Linked DNA regions of Homo sapiens: all the other regions are linked to region 1. Evidence: fine-mapped expression QTL. A gene starts in region 1. Each other region holds a variant in brackets. All regions are shown on one strand. Distances are from middle to middle. Region 1 holds the start of IFNGR1 (interferon gamma receptor 1). Region 2 has its middle 21 kb from the start of IFNGR1. Region 3 overlaps LOC105378017 (a long non-coding RNA gene). Region 4 overlaps IFNGR1 (interferon gamma receptor 1).

The links. PIP is the estimated chance that this variant, and not a neighbour inherited with it, causes the effect.
Region 2: its variant is fine-mapped to the expression of IFNGR1 in whole blood (INTERVAL, PIP above 0.99).
Region 3: its variant is fine-mapped to the expression of IFNGR1 in whole blood (TOPMed, PIP above 0.99). The same link has a PIP of 0.9 or more in blood mononuclear cells.
Region 4: its variant is fine-mapped to the expression of IFNGR1 in whole blood (TOPMed, PIP above 0.99). The same link has a PIP of 0.9 or more in T cells and esophagus mucosa.

What each region holds. Positions count from the first base shown.
Region 1 is chr6:137,216,721-137,222,840 of GRCh38, reverse strand. It overlaps IFNGR1 (interferon gamma receptor 1), which reads left to right and starts at 3,456. Exons shown (of 7, transcript NM_000416.3): 1 at 3,456-3,598. The coding sequence starts at 3,514. RefSeq lists enhancers at 2,986-3,235, 3,086-3,816, 5,257-5,316 and silencers at 3,276-3,505, 3,546-3,765, 4,226-4,275.
Region 2 is chr6:137,237,530-137,243,649 of GRCh38, reverse strand. No RefSeq gene overlaps it. Among named protein-coding and RNA genes, the nearest start is that of IFNGR1, 21 kb to the right of the region's middle. The variant A/G (reference allele first, on the strand shown) is at 3,379.
Region 3 is chr6:137,303,520-137,309,639 of GRCh38, reverse strand. It overlaps LOC105378017 (a long non-coding RNA gene), which reads left to right. Exons shown (of 3, transcript XR_943043.1): 2 at 1,084-1,214; 3 at 3,739-3,868. Among named protein-coding and RNA genes, the nearest start is that of IFNGR1, 87 kb to the right of the region's middle. The variant C/T (reference allele first, on the strand shown) is at 2,903.
Region 4 is chr6:137,195,573-137,201,692 of GRCh38, reverse strand. IFNGR1 (interferon gamma receptor 1) reads left to right here. Exons shown (of 7, transcript NM_000416.3): 6 at 685-812; 7 at 3,054-4,208. The coding sequence ends at 3,662. Among named protein-coding and RNA genes, the nearest start is that of IFNGR1, 21 kb to the left of the region's middle. The variant G/A (reference allele first, on the strand shown) is at 3,703.

The sequences.
Region 1 (6,120 bases):
TCTCCAGATAGTAGTAAGTACTATGGAATAAACAAAGTTAAATAAGGGCCAGTGTAAAGGCATGGGTAGAGTGTGAGAGGGCAAGAGTATTGGCTATAATTTACAGACTAATCAGCGGAATTTAAACTATATGCTTCAGTTACAAATCTTCACGCTGTCTCCTTTAAAGGGAAGCTGGCAGACATTTCTGCTTTGGAGAAAAGAGGAAGGAAATGCACTGTGCTCAGAGCCAAAATGCACAGTTTGTTCCACACACACAGGCTCTGTTCTCATTGGATCATATTTCTAGCTTCTTAAATTGTTTTATTTGGCCTATTAACTTGAAAGGCAGGTGAGTATGGTCTTCAAAATGTAGCCTTGCTCCTGAGCAGCAGCACTTCAGTATACACTTGGCTTTGGAATGATCTACGCTCCACCCCAATTTGTTTTCTTCATTTTAAAAACTAATCTGAGGCTCTAGTGGGGACCAACGTATACTTGGATATTCCCCAGCCATTAGGCATTGGAAATTTATCAAGGAAAGCTGGCACCGCTCATTTGTTTCTGTGTTAGCTGTATGAGATTTTTATATGGGATTTTAAAATACAGTTTATTGCTCTTCTTCCTACCTCTCTTATTAGCCGGTGGCCACCCCCATCTTTTAACTTTATTCAGGCTAATTTTACCTTATCCTTCAGGTCACAACATAATGGTAACTTCCTTAAAAAAGAATTTCCCTAAATCCAGACACAGTGGCTCACACCTGTAATCCCAGCATTTTGGGAGCCTGAGGCAGGAGAATCATTTGAGCCCAGGAGTTTGAGACCAGCCTGAGCAACACAGCAAGACCCCAGCTCTATAAAAAATTTAAAAACTAGCCGGGCATAAGGCCAGGCGAGGTGGCTCACTCCTGTAATCCCAGCACTTTGGGAGGCCAAGGTGGGCGGATTGCTTGAGCTCAGGAGTTTGAGATCAGCCTGGGCAACATGGTGAAACCCCATCTCCACAAAAGACACAAAAAAATGCCTGTGGTCCCAGCTACTTGGGAGGCTGAGGTGGAAGGATGGCTTGCGCCCGGGAGGTGGAGGTTGCAGTCAGCTGAGATTGTGCCACTGTACCTCAGCTAGGTGATACAGTCAGACCCTGTCTCAAAAAAAAAAAAAAAAATTAGCCAGGCATGGTGGTGTACACCTGTAGTCCCAGCTATTTGGGAGGCTGGGGCAAGAGGATCATTTGGGCCCAGGAGTTTGAGGCTGCAGTAAGCTATGATCATGCCTCTGCACTGCAGCCTAGACGACAGAGTGAGACCCTGTCTCAAAAGAAAGAAAAAAGAAAAGAAAGACTTTCTTTAAAATGTAGACTAAGTTAAATTCCTGTTTATACTCCTTTAATCTCTTCCCATTGCTCTCCTTGGGAATGATGATCACGATTTCAGTACTTGTGTAATTCCTTGTTTAACAGCTATCTCCCTCAGTAGACAGTAAGCTCCGTGAGGGCAGGGGCCATGTCTGTCTTGCTCAGGTCTTTATCTCTGTGCCTGGTCATGTCAGTCACAGACAGTATCACTTGATAATATTCACCCAATTAATAAATATATTTAGTCTCCAAATGACTAACTAGCAAAGTCTTCAGAAGGATACGTAGGGTGGTGGGTGCTGTGATTGTGAAACTTGCCCAGATCCCTCTCAGGAACAGAAGACTGGGTTCTGTCCCCTTCCTGATGCTAGGAGGGCTGCCAGTAGACACCCTCAACCGTCAGCGTTCCTCTGGGGAATGCCTCCATGAAAGAAATGGACAGCCCCAAAATCATGACAGTTGGTATTCAATGACTAATCAGTGCTGGGCTTTAAGACCCAGCCCCTCATACCAACTCAAGACACCTTTACAAGGCCATCCCAACTCCAGAGCGCCCCTTGGGAGCCTTTACTGGGATGGCATCACAGATCAACTTCTTCCTCCGCTCTGCTTCCTCCACCTCCCCTTCACAGACGTTTATTCCAAGAGCACTCCCTAATCAATCAATGCCTTATACCTTAATCTCGACCTCAGAGTTTACTGCCAGGGTAACCCAGCCTGTGACAAGTACCACAAAAATGTTTACAAACTGGATATCATATTTTGTCCTACTCCATAGACGCCTAAACGGTAAAGATCAGTTATTTATCCTTGCATCCTTACAACGACTAGAAGGTGTCTTTCATATAGTGGACATCAGAAACACATCAAAGGAAATATTCTCCCTAAACTTAGTCTAGATTGAGCTAAATTCTTCTGATTCAAAGTGTGGTCCTGTTGAAAGGGGCACCAGCATCCCCTGTGCATTTTGTCCGAAATACAAAATCTCAAGACCCAACCTGAATTAGAACTACTGAATCCAAATCTGCATTTTATCAAGATCCCCAGATGGTTCACATGTATGTTGAAGTTTGAGAAGTACTGAGCTAAGAGATTTATTAATACAAGTAAAATGATCTGGCTGATAATACCTCTAGTTTATATAGTGTCTTTATAAGGATTTTCCCTCTTTAAAAATTTTCCTTAACACTAGTAATCATGCAGTCTTTCACTCAACAAATACTAATTGAGTGCCAAGTAAAGATGTCAGCTCTACGGAGCTTACATTTTAGAAGGAGAAGAAAACAAATATCAAGGTGTATATTATAGTGTACAGCAAGGTGAAAAGTGCCATGAAAAAACAGTAGGGCGGGGTAAGGAGGAGGAGAAGGTGTGTTGCAATTTAAAATTTTTAACAAAAGTTCATGATACTCAGAGAATTGAAACAGGTGAGATCATTAGACATTCGCATGTTTGAGCACAAGCGCTGAAGGACTTAGCAATGTGGCTGCAGTGGAATAGGAGAGATGCAAAATAACAGACAAACCCAGAGAGGTAAGAGAGCAGACCTCTTCATGAGAGGCTGCCTGATAAACTGATTTGACACTGAATTGCTGAGAAGGTAATGCAAATAGTTTTTTTCTCCAAGAACAAAGTAGTTCTTGGTCAAGCCGATTTGATTTGGGCTGTGGGAATCTGCACAAACCATTTCACTAGCTAAGTCTCAGGTTCCTCAAATGAAAAAGCAGGGACTGGAAATGGCTTTTGAAGTCTCATTCTCTTCTAAAAATGTCAGGCTCCAAGACAACCAGGTGAAGTCCAAGAGTTAGTAAAATAAGGATTGTGGCTCGGCTGTGGCCTAATGCAAACTTGCACAACCCCAGGAAACCGAAAAAAACTGGAAGAAGAATTGCAGAATGGGGTGCCAGGTTGAAAGACCTTAACCTTTGCACTCAAATTCCTCCCACACCCAGAAGTCCAGGTCCCGACCGCACGACGCCGTGCTCACTGCTGGGTGCTGCGCCTGAGTCCGCCTCCTGCGGCTTCCCGGACTTGACCCCGCCCACGCCCTGGTCCCGCCTCCTGCCGACGCCGGCACAGACCCCGGTGACGGAAGTGACGTAAGGCCGGGGCTGGAGGGCAGTGCTGGGCTGGTCCCGCAGGCGCTCGGGGTTGGAGCCAGCGACCGTCGGTAGCAGCATGGCTCTCCTCTTTCTCCTACCCCTTGTCATGCAGGGTGTGAGCAGGGCTGAGATGGGCACCGCGGATCTGGGGCCGTCCTCAGGTACCGTCGTTCGCGGCAGGGCTGCGGCCGGGTCGGGACGAGAGGGAGGGAGGGATCCGCCCCAGCCGGGAAGCCCCGCCCCGCTTCTCCGAGGTCGCCCTAGCCCGGGACCCCTGCGTCGGGCCCTGAGCGGGCGACGGGGACGCGAGGTGGGGTCGCGAGACTGGGGCTCCGTGGTTTGAACTCGTCGGTTGCCTTTCTCCTGCCTCTTCCCTGGTTGCCGCCACAACAAATCACGCCGCTTGTTTTTCCGACTCTTGTAATCCACTTTTAAATACGATTATGCGCTGCAGAAGGACGTTGCTGGTCAATGTGGGACAGCGTGGTCTCAAAGATTATAATATCGTCTTCTTACTGTACCTTTTTTTATGGTTAGATACGCAGATACTCACTAGTATGCTACGGTTGCCTGCAGTGTTCAGTGCAGTGACAGGCTGTACAGGTTCATGACCTAAGAGCAGTAGGCTGTGTCATCTGGGTTTGTCTGGGTTTCTACTGCCCGAAGAAATTGCCTAAGGGGACATTTCTCCATTTCTCAGAACGGATCTCCATCGTTAAGTGACGCATGACTGTGAGTGTCCTGATCAGCATGTGGCATCGTGGTCTCAGTTCGTGGCTTAAATACTTCTTTCTTAGCGGGGGTGGGGGGGGGGACTCAAAGTGCTTAGGGTAGGAAAGTATGCATTATGTCGCCAGCTGAGAAGTAAGTGGCAGCTGAGAAGTAAGTGGCAGTCCGTCTTAGGTCTCAGTCTGGAAGTGGTGGATTGCCGGCACTCACTAGCAGATTTGGCAGTAGGTCTCTTCGTACGGGTTTGTTCTTCGGAGCATTTTATTTCCACCTGCTTATTGACATTTCCTAGAAAACAAATGTTGAGGGTGGCTTTTCTGAAGTGCAGAGTAATTGTGATTACGAGCTCCAGAGAAAACAGTAAACCTTTTCAATTCAGTTTTCTTTTTTTTATTATGATTTATGATTCATAGGGACTTTGAAAGGTCCACGTTTTGGTTCTGTGTTCACAACAATCTTCTGGAGTAGGCGTTATTTGTCTCTCTCTTTATGGACGAGAAATTGAGTTACGGAGAGGCCTGCCCAACTGGCAGAGAGGTCATAGCCACTCAGTGGGGAGCTGCTCAATTTGGCTCCAGAGTCCAAGTTCTTAACTGCTCTTCTAGGCTCTAGTCAGTCATCCACATGGGCAGTTGCAGTACTTTGCGGTAAGAGCTTGCACTTAGGCACAGACTAGTGGAAAGCAAGGCGGGGTGCTTGTCTCTTTTAGGGAAGTCAGTGAAGACTTCACAAAGGTGACCCCAGTGTTGGAACCAGAGGTGCAGAGACTGAGGTGCAGAGGTGTGATAGCATGTTGAATTCGTGGAATATTAAGCGTTCTATTGTAAAGTGTGTGTGAGAGCTTACAAGGGGAGGAGATAGGTTAGGTGGAGAAGTAGGAACCAAATAATGAATTGCCATATTATGTGTACCAGCAAGAAACCTAGCTTTATTAACTTAAGCAAAAAGAGGAATTTATTGTCTCAGAAAAACCAGAGTTAAACAGAAAATTATAGATGCCAGCTGGGTCTCAAGAGGCTAGAACCAGGAACCCAAACTGCTAGGACTCTCCATTTCTTATTTCTGTCTGGGTATTGACAGCTTTCCACACTTGGCAGGAATCATGGATGCTGACAGCTTCTGAGTTTTGACATCTTGCAGCCTCCTCCATTCTAACAAAATGCCAGGGAAAGGCTCTGATTTGCCCAGCTAGGTTCAGGTGCCAGCTTGCATGGGAAGGACATTCTCGTAGAGGGTTGGGTTGGGTTACCAGAAGAAGCGGAATGGCGTGCCTGAAGTACAGGTGTTGAGCCAACAAAATAATACACCCACTATGCCTTGCTGAAGTCAGTCATTATTTACTAATGCTGACATCATTGGATTATCAATTACAAAGGGAAATGATTTTATGCAGGATCAGACATGCCATTTAGAAAGACCAGTCATCTTATAAAATAGTTTGAGGGTAAACACAAGGCCCATTAGGAGGCTGCTGCTTAAGTTGGAGTCGATAAGTAGTTTAAGTGGAGAAGAGGACAGTTAGCAGAACATTTAGAAGGAAGAGTTAGTAGGCCTCTGACTGGATGTCAGCAGAGAAAGAGGATAACGCTAGCGCAGGCATAGCGTTAAAGCAAGTGCCAGGCCCTTCCTTCTGAATACGGGGCCCTATGAGTGCACCGTGTGACCCCTGTGAGTGCACAATTTGCACGTCCTTGTAGCTTGCTCTGGGAGGAGGATTGCCTGTCTGCCTCCCGTGGGAAGATCAACTGCAGCCTTCTATATTCTGCAGAAACTTTTGAATTTGTCTCTGTACCTCTCGTTCTAAAACTGGGGTCACTTTTGTGAAGCCTTTCCTGACTCCCCTAGAAGAGACAAGCACCCCGGCCTTGCTTTTCATTAGTTTCAGTGAGCCCTCTTTTTAAAGTGCATTTCTAACACATTTCTCTAGATTTTTCAGTGCATTTCTCTAGATTTT
Region 2 (6,120 bases), 21 kb before region 1:
CTTTGGGGTTAGAGTAGAGATTGGAATCTCATAAGTTTACAGACCTGGTGCACGTTGTTTAAGTTCTCAAAGTCTTAAATTTTCACTTCTTCAAAATTGACTTAGATATACTTATTTAATGGTGTTCTAAGTAACATACAATAGGTAGAATATAGCACTTGATAGTACTCAAAAATAGTAGCCATTATTTTTTAGTGAGGTAGCGTCCAAGTTTCTCAAATCAAGTAGGGAAACACACATAGGCAGATGTGTTCAATACAATGCCGTAAGTGGGGAGAAATCGATAGGTAACCAGGGTGCAATGAGAACAGGAAGAGTGGAGATAGTGGGGAGCATCTAGCCCAACCTGGTGATGCTGTTAACAGAACTATATCCAGAAAGGTAAACATAAATGTGCTCATGGACCCAGACATAATCAAGGAGGGAGCTGGGACTGGGATCCAGAACTTCCAACCCTTGTATCAATTTATTTTTGTAACAAAATGTTATATTTGTATGAGATATAAAATAAATACAGATTACTTATTTTTCCTACTCAGAATTCTTATACAAAAGATAAGACATAACCATCACATAATTACACCTTTCAGGGAGTAATAGCTAAAATATAAGATTTTCTTGTTTGAAACTCTTATCTCTCATTCACATCTTTTAAACACAATACCACACAGTAGGACCCTTAATAGTTACATGAGCTACAACGGAAGACAAAAACACTAATTAACTCTTTGAACAAAGATTTCAATGTCTTTTATATACCAGGTACTATTCTAGGTGCTAAGCGTACATAAATTAATAAAAACACAAAAAATTATAGGGAGAGACAGTAATAAATAAGTAAAATATATAGTACTGTCTGCTTTTATGTTATTAATGGTAAAATGGGCCTGTATAGTGATAGCATGTATTTCTCTACTTCCAAATCTTACTGCTTAAAACATAATTGTTTAAATATATATTTTAAAGTTAGAGTTTGTCACAACTGTGTTTTCTGCAGATCCACCCTCTGAGAGAGGCGACTGTAAAGGGACTCTGTAGTATACGTTAGGGAAATAATAAAGCTGGAGCTATGGTTGAACAAAGAGAGAGGATTTTCTAATTAGTTAAACTATATATATATTAGTTTTAACAGGGAAACTGTAAAGCCTTTCATAGGCAGATACAATTGTCTCTTTTACTTCCATGTGGCAGGAATAATAAAGAAATTCCAATTTTCAAATTTCAAAGGGAATGAGACCCTCCGGGAATTACCTTAGAACTAAGACTTGAGGAAGCCTTAGAAAAAGTGGCAAGAATTTTAATATTCAAGAATCTGAAAGTAGCAAGAAAAATATTAGGAATTCTGACCTCATGAATTGGGTAGAATCCTCAAAGCCCTGAATCTGTGCATAGCATGGGAGAATTTGGGGCAAGACGTATTGCGATTTAGAGTAAAGCTAAACAAGTATTTTTCTAAGGAAGAAATGAAGAATGAATGGAGCACCAGTATCTGTGAAATAGGGATGAGAATGGTAATTATATTTAAGTTTTTGTATTTCTTTGATTCTTGTTCTAATTATATTTTTCAATCACAATCCCTATGCTTAAAGCTTTATGATTTCCTTAGAAGCACATGACAAAAAAAAAAAAAAAAAAAAAGGCAGAGCTCTTATCTGAATCTTATCTCTAATAAGGCCAGTGGTGACTCCTCATCTGGACTGTGAACAAAGGCAAAGTTGATTCTGGTATGTCCTCATTTCAACACACAGGTATTCCCAGCACAGAGCTGGTACATTCCATTTTGCTTTAATCTTTTTTTTTTTCTATTTTGCTCCCTTGTGGGATCCAACGAGCTGGTAAATTCTAGCAAACACAGAGCAATAGCAATTGTCACAGCCAGTCAGGATAATCTACAAGCAAAAAGAACTTCCAGGAAGCCAACATAATTCTCTATAAAAACCCTCAAATATTTGACTAATGTACCATAGACACTGTACAAATAAGCACAGTCCCGCATTGCTGTCTCTGGCTAGATACAGAACTCTTTCATTGCCAGTTAGCAATGAACACTAAAAGTGAATATAACGCAATGTGTGTCCCACATCCTGATCAGCCATTTCTAATAGGCAGTACAGGAGTACTAAGAGAAAGACTAGGTTAAGGAACATTCTTTTCTGGTTTTGAAAAATCATAACCAGAAAAGCAACTCATGTCCTAGGGATAATGAGTCAATAGTAAAGACTTTTTCAGTGGCAGATAGAACATTTATTTGGGGCATCTTTCCAAAATCTAAAGTTCATATCTTCTGGAATGTCAAAGTTAATGGAACTTGAATAAGAGCCTTTGTCGCCTCTCTTTCTTGATAACTATGGCTGATGTTTTTGAAAAGTTATCCCTAAATATATCCTTGTATAAAATAATAGAGAATAAAGCCATTATCCAGTTTTTGATAAAGAAACATCTAGTATAAGGGTTAAAGGGTTCACTTTAGAGACAAAGTGAAGGAAATAAGTCATGTTGCATACGCTAGTCTCTATAATAAGAACAGGCTGCCAATCTGAAGCATTTCTATTCGAAACAAAAAGTACAGCTGAACAACAATTCAGAAACATGCCAGTTTTTCTCAATACCCAGAAATTTCTGTTTGAAACCATACTTTAAGTTATTCAAAAATGTTGTGCTGGCCGGATGCGGTGGCTTACGCCTGTAGTCCCAGCATTTTGGGAGGCCGAGGCGAGCGGATCACCTGAGGTCAGGAGCTAAGAGACCAGCCTGGTCAACATGATGAAACCCCACCTCTACTAAAAATACAAAAATTAGCTGGGTGTGGGGGAACGTGCCTGTAATCCCAGCTACTCGGGAGGCTGAAGCAGGAGAATGGCTTGACCTGGGAGGCGGAGGTTGCACTGAGCTGAGATCGCGCCATTGCACTCCAGCCTGGGTAGTAGAGTAAGACTCTGCCTCAATTAAAAAAAAAAATTTTGTACTCCAGCTGGGCTCAGTGGCTCATCCCTGTAATCCCAACATTCTGGGAGGCCGAGGTGGGAGGATCATTTGAGGCTAGGGGTTCAAGACCAGCCTGGGCAACAAAGTGAGATCCACTCTCTACCAAATTTTTTTTTTTTTAATTAGCCAGGCATGGTGATGCATGCCTGTAGAAGCAGTTACTCAAGAGGCTGAGGCAGGAGGATTGCTAGCCAGGCATGGTGATGCATGCCTATAGTTACTCAAGAGGCAGAAGCAGGAGGATTACTTGAGCCCAGAAATTTGAGCCTGCAGCAAGCCATGATTGCACCACTGCACTCCAGCCTGGGCAGCAGAAGGTGACTCTGTCTCAAAAAAGAAAAAAAAAGCGTTCCTTGGAACAACAGAGAAACTTTCTTGTAATGTCAGCATAAA[A/G]TAAAGCACATGGTGTAACTTCCCCTCAACCAAACCACAAACAATTACAGCATAAACATCCATGTCTTTATAAAGCAACAACTAAAAATGTTACATTCAAAGTTAGGACTATGGAAAAAGGGACAATTTTTTAAATGCAGCTTGATGTATTTTATGGTATGGAATATCTCTTCCTGTAAGTTATCAAAATATGAAATACCATTTATTTATGTGCAAGCTGCTATACTGCATTACATGGGTTAGCTCATTCATTCTTCCCAAAATCCTGTGGAAAAATTATTATTATTATCATCCACCTTTTACAAGTGAGGAAAATAAGGCATAGAGAATCAGTTTCATGGCTTATAAATGAATAAGCCAAAATTCAAAACCATGGCTGTCTGACTCCAGAATTAAAGCTCTATTTTTTTTTTTTTTTAGCAAATTGTCTTTCCCTATAGCTATGGATATTTCCAAAAGAAGAGGCTTGAAGGCCTTTGCTCTTTTCTATATATATTCTTTCATTTATTTTACCTATTGCTTTTAAAAACACTTCCCCAAAATGAGTATGTTAGAATTAGAACATTGCCTACCTGTAAGACTTTATGACTGGTGCTGTTTGACACATCCTACACTACTCCTCCATGTATGCATCATGTATCCTTAATTTCTTCCTCTCTCTTTTTTTTTCTTTTGAGGTCTCGCTCTGTCGCCTAGGCTAGGGTGCAGTGGCACGATCTCAGCTCACTGCTGCAGCCTCTGCCTCCTGAGCTCAAGTGATCCTCTCATCTCAGCCTCCAAAATAGCTGGAACTACAGGCCCATGCCCAGCTATTTTTTGTAGAGATGGGGTTTCACCATGTTGCCCAGGCTGGTCTCGAACTCCTGAGCTCAAGTGATATGCCTGCCTTGGCCTCCTAAAGTGCTGTGATTACAGGCATGAGCCATATATCCTTAACTTCTGAGAATTTTTATTTTGAATACCATGCTCTCAATTCATAACAGGTAGTATATAAGTTTAGGTAGGCATTTAATTTATTTTGTCGTCAGATTTTTTAATCCTAGAAATAAGTACATTTAAATGCTCTCTGATCTACCCTGTACAATTCCATGAGTCTACAAATAGGCCTAAATGCCATTATATTATCTATTATGCCCCAAACAGCTCCTTCCCAATGTCCCTGTTTATCAACGGATATTTAAGCAGACTCCTGGTGGAAACCAGGAAATGAATTGCACGCATATCTAGGTAAAAGCAATTCAAGCAGAGGAACAGAATGTGAGGTTGGAGCCTGACTGGTATGTTCAAGAAACCTACAAAAGGCCTTATAAATGGAGCAGAGAAAGCAAAAGAAAAAGTGGCACAAGACGAGGTGTGAGCAAGGCTAGCTGTGCAGATGTGCAGTCACAGAAGGCCATGGGCATAGAAGGGCACTGCACTTTGTTTAATGCTCTGTCATCAGCACCTTGAATTACTTCATAATATTTTTAATAAGAAGCCCCACATTTCATTTGGTACTAGGAAATGCAAATTATGTAGCCAGTCCTGGGTTAGAGCAGTAGCAAGAAGTCAATTGCTGGAGAATCCTTTAGCCATTGACTATTGTAAGGACTTTAACTCTGAATAAGATAAGAAACCATTGAAGGATTCTGAACAGCAGAATGATGAGCTTAGAGTGTTTTTTCTTTTAAATTACTCTGGCTCCTGCCATTAGGATGGATCTAAGAGGACAAGAGTAAAAACAGAGAGTTTCAGCAAGAATCCAGTTAGGAGATAATGATGATTTGGTCCACTACGGTGCAGTAGAATTGGAAAGAAATGGTCAGATTCCAGGCATATTTTGTAGGTGAAGCCAGAAACATACGCTGATGGAGATAATGTGGGGCAGAAAAGAAAGAGGGACATCAAAGGTGATCTCAAGGTTTTGCGCCTGAGCATTTGGAAGAAGAGAGGAAGACTGAAAGAAGCAGGCTTGGGGTTATGGAGATCCAGAGTTTGGTCGTGGATATGTTGAAGTTTGAGATGTTTATTAGACACTCAAGGGGAAGTGTTGAGTAGCTAGGTAAATATGCAAGTCTGGGGTCTAAGAAAAAGGTTTGGGCTAGAGATTTAAATATTCGGATGTGGAGAAGATGAGGAGGAACCAGCAAAGGAGAATAAGGAGGAATCAGCAAAGGAGAATGAGAAAGAGCAGCCAGTAAAACAAAGGAATCAAGAGGAAGTATAACAGTACCCTAAGATTCAGAGAGGAAAGAAGAAGGGACCTTCTTGTGTGTCAGTTAGCCTATGTCAATATGCTGATAGGTCAAGTAAAATGCAGCTGGGGAAGTGCATGACCATTGGATTTAGCAAGACAGGGACTTGAAAAATGTTTCACTGTACTGTTGGGATCCTTCTCCTTATTGTCTAAATGTGAAACTTCAAGCATGTCAACTCCTTATTTACCCTCATGTCAATAATATTCAGCTACTAATTTTGATAATCCTTTTATCATTTCCACCCTCTTTATACATTTTTTTTTATTTTATCACACCCAGCCTTTACCAACATTACAATCTAGTTCAGGCCCCTGTTATTTCAGGACTGGATTCCTGAGTACTGCCCCAGGCTGTCTCCTAGTTTAAGCTCACCAGCAGCCCATCTTGCTTAGTCATCTGGGAACAAAGCTTTCCTTGGGAATTTCCCAGGTTCTTCTGCTCTTAAAAGAAACATACCAATGGCAGGCTTCCCTCACCCACTTCCCCACCCCAGTGCACAAACATG
Region 3 (6,120 bases), 87 kb before region 1:
CAACTGTGATAGACTCCATTACTTGTTCGCAATTGTTGGCTCCCTCCTGACTCTGAGCACACTCTCCTGTGGGTATAGTATACTGCCCTATCCTAACAACTATGAGCTTGGCCACAGGACTCACTCTGGCCAACAGAATCCTAGTGGACTTAACATATGCCACCTCCGAGCAGAAGTTTTAAGTGTATGTGATGTGGCTCTGTCCTTCCTGAGCTTCTTCCCTTGGCCATGAGACTAGTTAACCTCAAACAGGAACTGCTGCCTCAGCCTGAGCCCTGGAATGACATAAGATGTGGAGCCGAGCCAAAGTCAGGCAAGCCCGGCTAGACTCAGGCAAGCCCCACCCCTCCCAGTCAAACCTGCGGTTAACCTGCTGTCTTCATGTAACACAAACAAGAAATAAATGTTTGTTTGTTCGTTAAACAACCAAGATTTTAGAATTGGCTGTTGTCACAATAATTGCTGACTAATCAATCAGCAATTATCACAAGTGAAATGTGATAATGTGAGAAATGTGATAAATGACTGTGGTATAAATTAAATTGTGACATTAAGGTTGGGAGATTTGAGGGCTACCAAAGGAACAAAACCAAACAGGCCTTAGTAATTTATTAGAGGTAAAAGTGAAAAATATAGAGGAGCAAATCATGATATTGAGATTTCTGTCTCAGTAACTGGGGATGGGAAGCAAAGACATGTTAGAAAATTTTAAATGTTGAATTCTTTAGCAAGTACAAAGAAAATAATGGAGCATAAGTTAACACTGACAAATATTTTAATGCACATTTGTGTGATTATAATTACTAAAGTGACTATCATCCATCTCTGTTAAGCATCTAACAAGTGGAAATAAGCTTAATTTGCATGAAAAGAGGTTATTACACTCAAGAATGACACTTCTGACTAAAAAGGTTGTTAGATATTAGAATGCATTATCCATGGTATTCAAGGAATTTTCTTTTACAGGGAATATTTAGTTCCAGATTAGACATGGAATTTTCAAAATTAATTATGAAGGAAGATTTTTTTTCTAGCAGTGTGATTTTACACTACTCTTTCCTATTCTTCAATGACTTTGCTTAGGTTAATTTTATCTCTCTGGGCCTTCATTTCACCATCTGTAAAACCAAGAAATGGGACTGGATGGTTTTCAAAGCTCCTCACAGTTTGGAAACAGCGAAGCAGACCCCACCAGGACTGTACAACATTATGGAGTAAGCACATAGCCTGGATTATGAAAGGGGTCTTGGGAGGCTTAGGAAAGTTACCTGTATATACTGTCCTTTTTATATATCAATATTGATATTGCCAGAGATAGAGAGAAGACACTGTTTTTAAGCCAGGTTTTTTTTCTGATAAGGAAAAATGTTTAGTTAAAATCATTTTTGGCATAATTAAAATGTGGAAAAAAAAGGGTCAAGAAATGTAATTTTCTGTGACTTTTAAAATATGAATAGAAATCCCAAATATTTAATGCCTTAATCCTTGCTCTATGTGTCAACATAATTAGACTTTACAGTTTGACCTAAGTAGCTACACTTTGCCTTGGAAAAAATATTAGGATAAGCAATATCTATATATGCCTTTAGACCTAACGCAGCATAAAATATGATAAGTAATACTCATAATTATTGGATTTGACAAGTGGGCTGTTTTTACAGCTATGTGACTTCTAAATAACTAGATGCTTTAAGTACAGTTTAACGTTATTAAATGAGATTTTATTTACAAAATGTCTGGCACATAATAAACAATTAAAAAAACCATGTGTCATTAGCACTCTCAGGTCAGGCCTATTGTGGAGCATCTGTAAATGCAGGTGGTGCTAAGTCTGATCACAAAATAACTGAAATCACAGATTACCAATCAGTTAACAACACTTATTGGGTACAGAGTCCTGCAAATTCAGACACTGTTATGCAGAAAGGAAGGAAGTTCATGTTAGAAAATAGACTAAGCTATATGAGACCCAAGAGGAAGTTAGGCTATAAAATGGAAACACACACACACACACACACGACGGTTTCTGATCACGGAGTTCCTCAAATTTTAAAAATAAATAAGAACATGCTGACTTTTCATCTACCCGCCAAAGATAAAGCTAAAATACATAAAGACAGGTAGTCTAAAATGCAAGGGTCACAGGACAAAAGGTCTGTACCCATGAAGTATGGAATAATTTCTTAAACTACTAACCCAACCCAACTACCAATCATTGGTAATCTGTGATTTCAGTTATTTTGTGATCAGACTTAGCACCACCTGCATTTACAGACGCTCCACAATAGGCCGGGCCTGACAGTGCTAATGACACATTGTTTTTTTGAATGTTTATTATGCGCCAGACATTTTGTAAGCAACAGACCTCTTTATGCACTTGTAAGGGCAGAAAGATGTGACACCTTTCCTCATCCAGCACAGCTGACATTTCTATAACAAAAGACTGACTGGTTAGCAAGAGAAAAGCGTAACAAATTTATTTAATCAAAGTTTTATGTGACATGGGAAACTTCAGAGATGAAGACCTAAAGACCCTGGGAAAACCATCTATTTTTATGCTTAGGATCAATGAAGAATGGGTAGCCGTGTAGAAGTGTGATTGGACCAAAGGGTAATAGACTGAGGGCAGAACCCAGTGAGGTCTGACTGATCAGATTCTTTTTGGCCTCCCTGTGTAGCCTTCTTTCCTCCTGGATATGGGGCAGGACCCATCTGGAATGAGAATTTTCAAGGGAGAAGGGAGAGAGTGACCTTTATATGTTTTATGACTTGCTTTGGAAGAAAGAGGTTCTAGTTTCTGTGACCCACCTTGGGAAAGAGGAATTCTGGTTTCTATGACTCGCTTTGTGGTAGAAAGAGGGGCAACAGATAGGAGGACGGGAGAGGAGCAGAAGGACCGTGC[C/T]TCTCAGTCTTTCAATCTCCTTTAGTTCAAAGTACTCAGCATGCCAAGGTGCCTTACTTTGGGGTATCATATTGTCAGCCCCAATACCCTCATGACTATCAAAGAGTTTTACAGAAGACTTTTACTAGTCTCAGAATTAGTAGGGAACAATCTTTTTGAGCTAAAAGATGGCCAATATGTAACTTTGCACATAGTAGGCACTCAGATGTTTTGAATGATAAATTGTTAGGGTTAAAAACCATTAACTCTGTAAAGGAAAATTAAGTATTGCTGTATCTATTTGGCCCAACATATCCTCCATGAACTAATTAGAGTAATGACTATTTGCAGACATTTCCACACAGGTAATTATTTGTAAGCAAGTTAACATTTTTTTAGAGGGGAGGGAAAAATTCAAATAATAGTTATTTCAGATATTATTCTCAGTTTTATGATATGAAATACTGGTCTTAGTATATGTACCAATAATGTACATATATGTATAATAATACCAAAAACTTACAGTACATATATGTGCCAGATACCATTATAAGCACAACTATACATGTGTATACATTCATTTAATTCTCACAAAAACCCTATCAGGTAAGTCCTATTATCCCCATGTTACAAAAGAGAACACTGAGGCTTAGAAAGGTTAAGTAACTTACTTCGGATCACACAGCTAGTAAATGATAAAGACAGAATTCAGATGAGATCAGGCACATTCAGGGTGGTATGGCTGTAGACATAAAGCCAGAATTCAAACATGGGCAGTGTATCTTCATTATCTGTGCTCTTAACCCAAATGTTATGGTGTTCCTCCAGTAAACTAACTAAGATGTATTTCATTCCAGTATCTCTCACAAGACTGGAATTTCCACCAAGGCAAAGTGTAGCAACTCAAGCCACGTCTCATAAATCCCAGTGTTGCATATTCTCCTTAGTATATTTAAAATGACAGCTGATGATAAAGGAAAATCTGCTTTCAATAAATCTCAAGCTCAGGCTCAATTCAGTCTATCATATCACTTTGTAATATGAAAAATAAAATGGAAAATCCATATATACATTAATGATCACCTTATTTATTTGTTCCATCATCCAGACTTTGAATGGAAGTGGATGAAAAGTGGTCCAATGTTGGGAACAGGCCCCCCAAAACCTGGCCATAAACTGGCCCCAAAATTGCCCATAAACAAAATCTCTGCAGCACTGTGACATGTTCATGATGGCCATAACGCCCATGCTGGAAGGTTGTGGGTTTACCAGAATGAGGGCAAGGAACACCTGGCCCACCCAGGGCAGAAAATTGCTTAAAGGCATTCTTAATCCACAAACAATATTATGAGCGATCCTTAAGGACATGCTCCTGCTGCAGATAACTAGCCAAACCCAACCCTTTATTTTGGCCCATCCCTTCGTTTCCCATAAGGGATACTTTTAGTTAATCTAATATCTATAAAAACAATGCTAATGACTGGCTTGCTATTAATAAACACTGGGTAAATCTCTGTTCGGGGCTCTCAGTTCTGAAGGCTGTGAGACCCCTGATTTCCCACTTCACACCTCTATATTTCTGTGTATGTGTCTTTAATTCCTCTAGCGCCACTAGGTTAGGGTCTCCCCGACCGAACTGGTCCCGGCAGTCCAAAAGGAATTAAAACAGAATTTAATTAGACATTGTATTTATGTCCCTATGTTTTTCAACTTTCACATACTGTAAATAAAATTATAGTCCCCTGTGTAATCATTTCCATTAACACTGATTTCCTGAGTGATCTGTGTGATAGAAACTTGTCAAATTCATAATCAATATGGATCAAGCAGAAACTATTAGCTCTGTTCTACCTGGATAATGCCTAACTCCAAGTGTGTTGTTCAAAGACACCCTTATCATGATCCTGCTGCAGTTTGGAGTCTTGCACCAGTGTCCTGCCTGTCAAGAGCTGTGAAGACCTAAGCTATTTACCAAAAAGCAAGCTAACAATTTATCCTGCCACAATTTCATGGATAATTGCAAAAGCCACAAGACTCTGGATTAGACTCAAAGGACTTTCTTACTTCCAACACAACGGGTAGCATGTGTTTTCATATTCACATCAACCCCTTGTTCTGCTAAGTCTCACTGGAGTAATGAAGGTGGGCTGGGTCGATACATGAAGGAGGTTTGCATCATATTGTAACTAGTATAGCCAGTTTGCTAGCTTACTCTAAAAGTAACCCCTCCCTCCCTTTGTTCCTTGTTACATGTAACTGTTTGCTAGAGAATTCCAGTGGCCAATATTGAAATAATGTAGGCATAAAGTGGAGATAGCAGTTGCAATTTTCTCCCTTCTGAGAAAAAATTGGTGTTCAATTAATCCATAACCTGAACCCTGCTGAGATGATGCCAGTGAGGCCTCTGGGTGGTCCATTACTGAAAAAAGTCACCAGAAAATTACAAGCAAACTTGCACCCCGCACCATGCTGGTGCATAGTTTCCATGCCACCTTTCCCCTTTAAACCTCTTTAGCCAAACTGAGAATTTGAGATGGTTTTTTGAGAGTTGAGTCAGGCTGTTTCCTCAAGCTTCTAGCACTTGAAGAAACCTGCTTTCCTCCCACTAATCCTCACTTCTCATGTCTGGCTTTTCAAGCAGTGAGCAGCTGAACATGAATTTGGTTACAATAGCCAAGGAATCCCAAATTTAGGAAAACTTTATTTTTCTTTAATGGGCTACAAACAAACCCGCTCATTAAAGAAAATAATATATCTCTCTCTTTGCCCTAGAGAGAGATATTATTATACTGGACAGCAAACAAACCTGCCCTCTGTTGTGGAGAGAGATCTTACCTCTGTTTTCCAAGACTATTTACTATACAAACATCTTTGAAAAGAACAAGGGGTCTGTTAGTTCTGCTCACAAGATGTAAGAAATGAGAGAGATCTACCTTTCTCTCTGGAGAACTACCTTTCAACATACCTTTACTGCCGAGCCATGTGACTACAGCCATTTGTCTGCAACATACTGCCATAGCCAGGTGGCCCGACTGAGTCAAGGATCAGGATCAGTTTGCAGGAACTCTGATTCCCATCCAACAGTAAAATCCTTATCATAAACCTCCAAACCACAGAAGCCTGGAAATCTACAAATACTACTCATCCAGATGCTGACCAGCCCACTAAAAGTGAAAATAGACTTCTGCTGTAACTATTCAGAAGAGAGAAGGAATCTCTGAGGGTTTGTACTCACTCTT
Region 4 (6,120 bases), 21 kb after region 1:
TTTGTTGTTTTGTTTTGTTTTGAAATGGAGTCTCGCTCTGTCACCAGGCTGGAGTCCAGTGGCACAATCTCAGCTCACTGCTACCTCCACTTCCCAGGTCCAAGCGATTCTCCTGCCTCAGCCTCCCACGTAGCTGGGACTACAGGCGCATGCCACCACACCCAGCTAATTTTTGTATTTTTAGTAGAGATGGGGTTTCACCATGTTGGCCAAGATTGTCTCGATCTCTTGACCTCGTGATCCGCCCACCTCGACTTCCCAAAGTGCTGGGATTACAGGCTTGAGCCACTGTGCCCAGCTGCCAGAATTTGTTTCTAAGGAGAGGTATTTTTAAAATTATTCTTTTGCATTTTTAACCGAAAGAAATGCATAACCCTGGAAACACACTGTATGTAGGGCTGTAAGGAAATTATTGTAGAAAAGCTATTTTAACTATGTTGTGTCATAGTAGAATAGTCCCAGAAAGTTCTAGAATTGCAGAGCTGGGAAGAACCATATTGCTATCTAAGACAGATACCTAATTTTTTACTCAGATTTCCTAACTTCTGCTTCCTTCAGTGTTCTTTAAAACTCTGGCCCTATTCACTAATTTGTAAATCTATTCAAGAATGGCACTAAGACTTTTTGATAGATAATAGCAGTATTCCATCTTAATTGTAACTTGTGATTTCTGCCTTTTTTAAGGTTCTCTTTGGATTCCAGTTGTTGCTGCTTTACTACTCTTTCTAGTGCTTAGCCTGGTATTCATCTGTTTTTATATTAAGAAAATTAATCCATTGAAGGAAAAAAGCATAATATTACCCAAGTCCTTGGTAATGTATTTAATTTTTTTATATACACTAAAAAGTTAACTTGAACCTTTTTTGATAGTTTCTTAAATTATGTTTTTAAAGTAGAATGATATTCAACAAGATGTCACCTGCCATCAATCAGTCAGTCTACCACACATGCAAAATCACATACTGTGTCTTTTGCTGTGCAGCAAGTATTTTGTTTTTTTTTTTATTCTCAGGGAAAAACACGGTGAGACAATTCTGTTAAAGATCTTAAAGTCTAGGGGGAAGAAAAGATAAATATACATTGGCTATATAACGTGTGATAGATTCAAAGATTTATACCTGAGCCCATGAGGACTTTGTCCAGCTTTGGGGTGGGGTTAGTCATGGCTTTTCCAGAGGCAATGCCTGAGCAGTCTTGAGGGACATACAGGAGTTTAGGCACTAGGGGACAGAATGTGCTGAGGTCCAGAGCCAAGAAAGCATGACTTTGAAAGCTCTGCAAATACAGAAACACTTCATTATGGTTGGAGTATGAAAGGAAAGTTGGCCAAAAATGAGACTAACGTAGGAGTTTGACGATTTTAATGTCCAACATTTCAAAGCCTTTGATGTAAAGAACATTTAAAGGTAACAGAATAGTATCTATTTGAGTCAAATATGACAGGAATAATATCTGTGATGCTCAAAGGGCACATTAAAATTTGCTATAAACTACCTTTAAAGTGGATAAGAACTCTCAACAGTTAGTAGTCAACTCACAAATGAATTATAATATTTTATTCTTACTAGTAATTAAGCACAAAGTAACCTTGCAGTATGCCATTTTACACGCGCTAGAGAAGAAAAAAGAAACCTGGATATCCAGTAGTACCAGCAGTAGCATAACGGGTAAATGCTGGTGAAAAGTAATCTAGCCCTGGTAAGAATAAAAGCACACAGTGGGTATTCAGTGTAATAGTGACGTAAACATACCATTTCTTTGATATGGTCACTCCACTCTTAAAAAATGTATTATAAGGAAATAATTTCATAAATAAAAAGATGTACAGGATATTTAACATGTTCCATAGCTAGTAAAAATTGGAAACATTTCCCCATCTATTAAATTATTTATCAGTATAAAGAAATAATATGAGCTACTAAAAATTATAATGATGAAGGCAAGTAATGAGAATATTACTTAAGTAGATGTGCCCACTTTGTAAACATAATGTGCGTACATGTGGAAGATAATTGTATTAGGATTCTCTAGAGGGACAGAACTAATGGAATATATATATAAAGATATATATATAATACCAAATAAACTCCCCTTTATATAAATCTATATTTTATATATTATATATTATATATATTTTATATGTTATATAATATATATTATATATTATATATAATATATTATAAATTATATATTTTATATAATATATTATAAATTATATATTTTATATAATATAAGTTATATATTTTATATATTATATTATAAATTATATGTTTATATAATATATTATAAATTATATATTTTATGTAATATAAATTATATTTTATATAATATATTATAAATTATAAATTATATATTATATATTATAAATTATATATTATATAATATATATTAATTATATTTTTCATATATATATATATAAAGGGGAGTTTATTTAGTATTATTTAGTATTAACTCACACGATCAGAGGTCCCACAATAGGCCATCTGCAGGCTGAGGAGCAAGGAGAGCCAGTCCAAGCTCCAAACTTGAAGAATTCAGAGTCCGATGTTCAAGGGCAGGAAGCATTCAGCATGGGAGAAAGATGTAGGCTGGGAGGCTAGGCCAGTCTCTCTTTTCACATTTTTCTGCCTGCTTACATTCTAGCCATGCTGGCAGCTGATTAGATTGTGCCCATTCGGGTTAAGGGCGGGTCTTCCTTTCCCAGCCCACTGACTCAAATGTTAATCTCCTTTGGCAGCACCCTCACAGACACACCCAGGATCAATACTTTGTATCCTTCAGTCCAATCAAGTTGACACTCAGTATTAACCATCACAGTAACGTACAAAAAGCAACATATATTAGTAAGATATCTGATGGCTTTTTAAAAATTCTAAAACTTTGTTTTTAATATTACTATGGGACCTTTCATTAAAAAGAAATGGCAACATCTGATTCACCCATTATCCTAAATGTGCCATTTGGTGGTCCATTACTTCAGACCTTTGTTTTTTTTGAGGGTAGGCACTTAAGCTTAACAATTTTTTATCTTTAATCAATTTTTCTCCCCATAGATCTCTGTGGTAAGAAGTGCTACTTTAGAGACAAAACCTGAATCAAAATATGTATCACTCATCACGTCATACCAGCCATTTTCCTTAGAAAAGGAGGTGGTCTGTGAAGAGCCGTTGTCTCCAGCAACAGTTCCAGGCATGCATACCGAAGACAATCCAGGAAAAGTGGAACATACAGAAGAACTTTCTAGTATAACAGAAGTGGTGACTACTGAAGAAAATATTCCTGACGTGGTCCCGGGCAGCCATCTGACTCCAATAGAGAGAGAGAGTTCTTCACCTTTAAGTAGTAACCAGTCTGAACCTGGCAGCATCGCTTTAAACTCGTATCACTCCAGAAATTGTTCTGAGAGTGATCACTCCAGAAATGGTTTTGATACTGATTCCAGCTGTCTGGAATCACATAGCTCCTTATCTGACTCAGAATTTCCCCCAAATAATAAAGGTGAAATAAAAACAGAAGGACAAGAGCTCATAACCGTAATAAAAGCCCCCACCTCCTTTGGTTATGATAAACCACATGTGCTAGTGGATCTACTTGTGGATGATAGCGGTAAAGAGTCCTTGATTGGTTATAGACCAACAGAAGATTCCAAAGAATTTTCATGAGATCAGCTAAGTTGCACCAACTTTGAAGTCTGATTTTCCT[G/A]GACAGTTTTCTGCTTTAATTTCATGAAAAGATTATGATCTCAGAAATTGTATCTTAGTTGGTATCAACCAAATGGAGTGACTTAGTGTACATGAAAGCGTAAAGAGGATGTGTGGCATTTTCACTTTTGGCTTGTAAAGTACAGACTTTTTTTTTTTTTTAAACAAAAAAAGCATTGTAACTTATGAACCTTTACATCCAGATAGGTTACCAGTAACGGAACAGTATCCAGTACTCCTGGTTCCTAGGTGAGCAGGTGATGCCCCAGGGACCTTTGTAGCCACTTCACTTTTTTTCTTTTCTCTGCCTTGGTATAGCATATGTTTTTGTAAGTTTATGCATACAGTAATTTTAAGTAATTTCAGAAGAAATTCTGCAAGCTTTTCAAAATTGGACTTAAAATCTAATTCAAACTAATAGAATTAATGGAATATGTAAATAGAAACGTGTATATTTTTTATGAAACATTACAGTTAGAGATTTTTAAATAAAGAATTTTAAAACTCGTTTTTGTATTCATTTATTCAAGCACTTAGGCAGTCTTTCATAGTTAAGCAGAATATTTTTATATCCACTGCTTGTTTCCATGCATTAATGCTATAGGATTATTTGCTAATTGTTCATATTTAATATTTAAAACAACCCTAAAAATAATATTTTTAAATGGTCCTTATAGGTCTATATTTCAGTGCTTAACACCCAGTGTGCAGAACACTGTTCTAAGTGGTTTGAGAAGAAAAGATTTAGCTGTAGAGCATGTGGATTGAGGAATCTAGCATAAAGGTGGTGGGCAGAGCCATGGAAATGGATGGAACCTTGAGAATTACATGGTGTGGAAAGAATCCCCAGTGAGAGGCAAACCAAGAGTTAATATATATGTTACCCAAGGATTTCTTGGAATTACTAAGAGGATAGAAATATTCAGAAATTAATATGAATCTGTGAATTAATGGACCAAAAAAAATGAAATACAATTTACATGAGTAGCAAATCACATTTCTTTGGTTTCTGGAAAGATATTTCTCTTCACTTAAAAATGCAAATTACAAATGAGATACTATCAGTGAAAAAAGTAGTGGTGTGGTTTGCAGTGGAACTGGTATAGTCACTGATTTTAGGGTAATGTCTTGTAAATTGCTTTTCAAACTGATACCCCATACATATCACATTCCACAAAAGTAATATCCTTCAACAGACTTTGATCTCTCTTGTGGGAAAATTACAAAAAAAAAAAAAAAACTACATGAACAATGCACACATTAGAATGGGAAAAGCAAAAATATGAAAATAATTGAAATAGCCAAGGAAGAGGTAATACTTACTACCCTCCAAAATGATTATACCAATGTGTACTCCCATCAAATGTGAATGAAGTACCTGTTTTTACACCCTAGCTAATTGACTGAAATAAGTCTTTAATCTCGGTAAAACACTTTACACATTAAATGCATTTGCATTTCTTTAGTAAATTTGAGCATGTTTTTATATCTTATTTATAGTTTCATGCCAACTCATCTTGTTCTTTGTCCATTTTTTTATGGGCTGTTTATATCTTTCTTACTACCCTTTATCTGCCCTGAGTTACAGATTTATTTTATAATTTCCTGCCTTTTGACTTACCACACAGATGTTTAAGTTGTTTATAAAGTCAAATTTATTTATTTCCTTCTATTTTTAAAAAGCCCTTCCCCTTTCCCCAAAAGATAGAAGTTTTCACTCATGTTTTCTTCTGGTCTTTGGTGATGATTGTTTTACATTTAATTCTTCTATCCATCTAGATTTTTTTCCTTTGAGGACAGAGATAGAGATCCAGCTTTATTTTTTTGTTTTAGTTTCCTGTGGCTGCCGTAATAAATTACCACAAACTTGGGTGGCTTAAAACAACAGAAATTTGTTATCTCACAGTTCAGAGGCTAGAGGTCTGAAATCAAGGTTTCAATAGGGCCAGATTCTATCTGAAAGCTCTAGGGGTGGAGGGCCCCTTCCTAGTTTCTAGTGATTGTTGTCAATCCTTGATATTCTCTGACTTATGGCTGCATTATTCCAATTTCTGCCTCTTGTCACCTGGCATTCTTCTCTGTATGTCTGTGTCCAGATCTTTATAAGGACACCAGTCAATTGGATTGATTAGTCCCACTCTAATCCAGTATGACCTCCTCTTAACTTGATTACATCTGTAAAGACACTTTCCAGTTAAGATCACATTCATAGGTACCAGGGGTTAGGACTTCAACACATCTTTTTGAGGATACAACTCAACTCATATATTTCCCTTAACAAATTAGTTATCCCAAATACTATTCATTAAATTATCTAACTTTTCTATGCTGATTTCAAATGTCACATTTATCACATGCCAAATTCTCAGCACTCCTGGAACAGTTTTGTTGTTCAGTCTTTTCCCGTCTATGTATCACA